Linked DNA regions of Homo sapiens: region 2 is linked to region 1. The links come from fine-mapping of genetic effects on gene expression. A gene starts in region 1. The other region holds a variant in brackets. All regions are shown on one strand. Distances are from middle to middle. Region 1 holds the start of MAP3K9 (mitogen-activated protein kinase kinase kinase 9). Region 2 overlaps MAP3K9 (mitogen-activated protein kinase kinase kinase 9).

Region 1 (2,904 bases):
GACGAGCCTGTACTTCCAGCTACTCGGGAGGGTGAGGTGGGAGGATGGCTTGAGCCTAGGATGTTGAGGCTGCAGTGAGCCGAGATTGCGCCACTGCACTCTGGCCTGGACAACAAACTGAGACCCTGGAAGAAAAGAAAAGAAAAGAAAGGAAAAGAAAAGAAAAGAAAAGAAAAGAGAAAAAAAGATCAGAGAACCTTTCTTACTGGAAGTCAACGTTGCCACGACAGGATTAAAGCAAGAAGAAACATTATGGGCCTCCTATCTCGTCCTTAATGTTCAAAACGCAGGGTATAGCAAAGCATATAGGAAGAGGTCGTCCTCACTCGTGAACTCAGCATCGGGTTCTACGTTTATTCTGCTTTGGTTCTTCTTAATCTGACCTCTATAGACTTCGCCACGATCCAAGGTGTAATTCCAACAGGCAAAAGAAGTCTAAGGATTGTCGAAAAGGTGGCTCCCTTCAGACAGACCAAGCCCAATTCATGGCAGCGTTCCCAGCCCCAGTTTGAAGCTCAGTAAGGTGGTCTCTTGCCTTTCTGAATTCTGAAAAAAGAGTGGTATTGGAATCTCTTCTTACCGGAACCCAGGAGAGGGCGAGCTGTGGTGCAGTCCTCATAAAGGGGAGAACTGTAGTTTTCAGAGTTCTAATGAACATCCCAATGGGCCTAAAAGGCTTCAATAAGAGATGAAAGGTTCCGGGTGAGAGTGGGCGTGGGCGAAGCTGATCCCTCTAGGTCGGACTAAGGCAGAGCCAGATCCAAGAGGGAGAATCCAACTGTAAAAGGGATCTGGGGAAGAAAGAGCTCTGTTGGGGGTGCAGCCGGATGAAGAACACCGGTGCTGCTCAGTGCAGCCCCTACCCATCCATGGCAAACAAAGGCAGCTGCCTCCCTTCCAGCCTTTTAGTTTGAATGAAGGCTCAGTATTACCTTTTAGGATCCACCCTTCCCTTCTCACGCACCCAATGAGGCCGGAGCCTCTTCCTGCCGGGAGGTGCTGAACTCTCCCAGGAAACGGACAGGTGCCGCGAGCCAATGGAGGGAGCTGCGGCGGGCCAGTGGGCGGGAAGAGTGGGTCGACCTGGGTTTGAGAATGACAGAGCCCGCAATGGGGGAGGGCACGGTGCGACGGCGGCGCAGGGGGTGAGAGGGACCTGCGAGACGGCCAGCTAGGCTGCCCCAACCACGGCGGAGGAACCGGGGACTGGGCGGCCGCAGCCAATGGGAAGGCAGCGGGCGCGGGGCGGGGCGGGCGTGGGGCGGAGCCCCCTGGGGTCCGCAGGGCTGGGGCGGAGCCAGGCCCGCGTCAGGTGGTCCCGGCGAGCTGGCGGTGCGGGGGGCGGGGCACGGCACGGCGCGGAGAGGAGAGCGGCGGCCGGCTGGCAGCGGCGGGCACCGGCTGCGCGAGCAGGTACCGGCGGCAGAGGTGACGAGGCCGCCCCCGGGGGGGCGAGCGGGCAGGCGGGGACTCGGCCCGCTGCGCCCCTAGGCTGCGCGAAGAGCTCGCGCTCGGCGCTCTTCTCGTACCGCGGTAACAGCGCCGGCGAGCCGGCTCTCCCAGCCCTGCCAGCCCGGGCCCTACCTGCGGCCGCCGTCGTTGGGGGGGGGTCCTCCCAGCTCTGCGGAGGCGCATGAACAATAGGCGGCGGCGGCTCCTGCGGGCGGCGGCGGCCCCGCACCCTATGGATCGGCCGCTCCATGGAGCCCTCCAGAGCGCTTCTCGGCTGCCTAGCGAGCGCCGCCGCTGCCGCCCCGCCGGGGGAGGATGGAGCAGGGGCCGGGGCCGAGGAGGAGGAGGAGGAGGAGGAGGAGGCGGCGGCGGCGGTGGGCCCCGGGGAGCTGGGCTGCGACGCGCCGCTGCCCTACTGGACGGCCGTGTTCGAGTACGAGGCGGCGGGCGAGGACGAGCTGACCCTGCGGCTGGGCGACGTGGTGGAGGTGCTGTCCAAGGACTCGCAGGTGTCCGGCGACGAGGGCTGGTGGACCGGGCAGCTGAACCAGCGGGTGGGCATCTTCCCCAGCAACTACGTGACCCCGCGCAGCGCCTTCTCCAGCCGCTGCCAGCCCGGCGGCGAGGACCCCAGTTGCTACCCGCCCATTCAGTGTAAGGCGAAGGCGGGGCCGGGCGGGGAGGGGGAATGACGGAGGCCTGGGGGGCGGTCGGGGAAGGGGGGAGCACTGCGCGAGGGCTGGGATGAGGGCGGGGGGTGGGGAGGACGATTGACCTGGGTGTGGGTGGCGCGCGCTTAGGCTGCCCGGGCTTTGCTTGCTGGATAAGCTCGAGACGCCTCAGGCCCTGCCCGCACTTCAGACGCTTGGGCTTCTTCACCTTCAGTTGGCCACCTCAGCAGTGGCTCCCGATTTCCACATCCTGAAGTCCCAGTCTGAGAATTTGCCAGTTTCCCAGTCCCTTCTCTTACCCACCCCCCCGCCGCCCCCCATTCCCAATCTGGAAGTGTTTATGGCAAGATGGTGGTTAGTGTCCTAGCCTTAGTCCCCAAATCAGGGACCTTGCCACCACCTCTTCTAACGCCTGTCCCCGCCTCCTAAAGGCATTTGCTTTCAAAGAGATGGGGGTGTCTCCGCAGGGCTGAGCTGGCTCACAAGTCCCGGAAGCATGTGTGAACTCAAGGCTCAGTTGCCTGTAAAATGTCGGGTTGATTTCTTGGATCCTATTTCTTATATCTCAGAAGTTGTACCTTTAGGAGTCTCACTGATTAATGTGCTAAGAGGGATGTGTGTGTTGAGAGTGGGGGTGAGACAAGTGATGATTAGAGAGGAAAAAGTATGTCGTTCCCCCATGGGAGATCAGGATTGCAAGGTACAGTGGCTGAATCCCAGTCCTTTGACAGTGAGGCTGTTTGGGAAATACATTTTCTTCTTTCTTCTCATTCTAGATCCT
Region 2 (2,904 bases), 23 kb after region 1:
GAATTCTGGACAGCAGAGGTGTTGCTGTTTTTCATCCCTTCGTCTTCCCTTGCTCCCCCCATCTCTGTCTCCCCTCACATCATCCCTAGTATAGGACTTCGCATGTAGCAGCCCAGGTGTTTGGTGGCAATTCCAATGTGGCCAACCAAAAAATCTTGTTTTGTTTGTGTGTTTTTTTTTGTCCCTAGTTCCTTTCTGGATGGACTCAAAACACTTTTACTGAATGAGCTTTGTTTGTTCTCTTCAAGCCTTTGCTTTTATATATCTATTTCATAAACTTCTCAGGGGCTTGGGACCCTAGAGGAAGGTGTTCCTTGGAGTAGCTTGTAAAGTCAGAAGCCCAATGTGTGTCTTTGGAATTGCCCAGCTGTGAAGGTACTGACTGTCCATCCATCCCTTGGAGCAGGTTTGGGAGTGGGGCCCATTGCAGCAGGTGGGCATCAGGATGCTGGCAATGACCGATCTTTTTTTTTTTTTTTTTGAGACAGAGTCTTGTACTGTTGCCCGAGCTGGTGTGCAGTGGTGCCATCTCGGCTTGCTGCAACCTCTGCCTCTGAGGTTCAAGTGATTCTCCTGCCTCAGCCTCCCGAGTAGCTAGGATTACAGGTGCCCGCCACCACACCCAGCTAGTTTTTTGTATTTTTAGTAGAGACGGGGTTTCACTATGTTGGCCAGGCTGGTCTCAAACTCCTGACCTTGTGATCCGCCCGTCTTGGCCTCCCAAAGTGCTAGGATTACAGGTGTGAGCCACTGCGCCCAGCCAGTGACTGATCTTATAGTTAAGATCTTTCTCTGCAAATCCTTGTGACTGCAAGCTGATGTGGCTTATGAGGCAATATAACAGGAAAAAGTATCATTGAAAAAGGAAAAAAAAATAGTTATGCTAGATTCCAGTGTGCAGATACAACTGTTTTCATCTTTATATTTGGCTTTCCTATTCTTATCTATATACCTCATCTCCTCCTGCTGTTTTATTCACGGTGTACATGCCATCTGGACACTTAAAATTTGTTTTTGTTTCTGCATTCTGTTAACCTTCAGGGTCCAAGAGGAAGGAGGATGCCTTAATCAGTGAGTACCAAGAAAAACCAAAAAACTAAAAATAAAAACAATAAATAAGAGGAAGGAGAAAAGGACTGTGGGTAGGGAAAATAGCGATAGATTTTGGATTCTGGTCATTCTTGACTTTCTTTTTTGCTTATAG[A/G]TATGATTAGAGCTTACTGGAACCTTACAGTTGTGAACTAGAGAAGCTGAGTGACTTGCCTAAGGTCATCCTGATGCTCATGATAGTGTTCCTTCTTTTAGCCCGACAATGGAACACTGTTACTCTGCCAGGCTTTCCAGCTAGGACCAAAGTATTTCAGACAACAGTGGAAACAGGATCTGTACCCCATTCGAGGAACCAGGGGGACAATTTCCTTGTAAGGTCCCAAGGTCAAAGTTTGGGGTGAAGTCAGTGTTTTTCCTGGTTACTAACATGAACTCGGTCTTTGGTATGTTATGTAGAAGGATAACAGTGTTCAGTATTCTTCTAGGTGGTACAATTTTTAGGAAGAAAAGAATAATAAAAACATTTTTTATTTCTTAAGCAGTAGACTCCTGGCTCCCTGTGCTTAGAGATAGGAATCCCCGCTGAGAGATAGATGGGAATCCTGGAGTGGATTGTTAATAATCTCCCTGTTATTGGCACAGTTGTGTGATAGAGAGTTGTTTTCCCCTCTCCCCTGCCTTAGGAGACCTACCCTTACTAAGTATTTGGATTAAATTAATAATAAAATAGCTTGCTTTGCCCAAATGCACAGCAGCTAGTGACAAGGGGAGATGCCACATCACATCCCATGGATGGCAATGGAAAATCAACTAAGGACGTAAAATTTTCCCACATAAGCTTCAGATGACTTAAGATTATTAGTGTAACCTGATATTATCTGATACTCTCCTTGGCTTATTATTCATGGTGACAGTAATACATGGCCCTCATTTCCTTCATCCCCCAAATAGTCCTAGAGGTAGTAGAAAGAGTATGGTAGTCCCCTCTTATCTGCCATTTCACTCTCCCTGTTTTTAGTTACTCATAGTCAACTGTGGTCCAGAAATATTACATGGAACATTCTAGAAATAACGATTCATAAGTTTTAAATTGCACACCATTCTGAGTAGCGCAATGAAGTCTCACGCCTTCCCACCCCTTCTTGTGTGGGATGTGAATCACATCCTGTCCAGCATGTCCACACTGGGTGTACTACCTGCCCATTAGTCATCCACATGGTCTGTCCTGACATCCAACCATTGACATTGTCACAACTCAATGATCCCGGGTCATCCAAAGCAGACGATCCTCTGACTACACATCAGAAGGTTGGGAGTACCAAACACTGTGTCACTGTGTCACCTCGCCTATGTCATCTACCGCGCACTTCATCTCATCACGTACCCATTTTTTCATCTCATAACGTCACAAGAAGGGCGAATACAGTACAACAAGATCTTTTCAGAGAGAGAGAGAAACCACATTAATAAAACTTTTCTTATAGTATAGTTGTTCTATTTTATTGTTAGTGTTAATCTCTTACTGTGCCTAATTTATAAATTAAACTTTATCATAGGTATGAATGTATAGGAAAAAACAGTATATACAGGGTTCTATCCATGGATTGGGGCATCCACTGGGGATCCTGGAATGTGTCCCCTGAAGATAAGGAGGGACTCCTGTAATCATGCTTTGTATTTGGTCCTTTAGAATTTTATTTGAAACAGTATCTACCTGAGGTACTCCAGGAAGAGGTGGTAGTATCCCCATTTTATAACAGAGGAAGCTGAGGCTCAGGGAGGTTTAACAATGCCCTGCCCAAGAACACATAGCTAGAGAATGATAGGGCCTGGACTCAAATACCAGGCTCTTGA

The links.
Region 2: its variant is fine-mapped to the expression of MAP3K9 in whole blood (INTERVAL, PIP above 0.99).

Annotation. Positions count from the first base shown.
Region 1 is chr14:70,807,968-70,810,871 of GRCh38, reverse strand. It overlaps MAP3K9 (mitogen-activated protein kinase kinase kinase 9), which reads left to right and starts at 1,359. Exons shown (of 12, transcript NM_001284230.2): 1 at 1,359-2,106. The coding sequence starts at 1,701. MAP3K9-DT (MAP3K9 divergent transcript) reads right to left here and starts at 2,088. Exons shown (of 2, transcript NR_184164.1): 1 at 1,585-2,088. RefSeq lists a silencer at 1,158-1,797 and an enhancer at 2,738-2,797.
Region 2 is chr14:70,785,085-70,787,988 of GRCh38, reverse strand. All of the region lies in intron 2 of MAP3K9 (mitogen-activated protein kinase kinase kinase 9), which reads left to right. Among named protein-coding and RNA genes, the nearest start is that of MAP3K9-DT, 22 kb to the left of the region's middle. The variant A/G (reference allele first, on the strand shown) is at 1,205.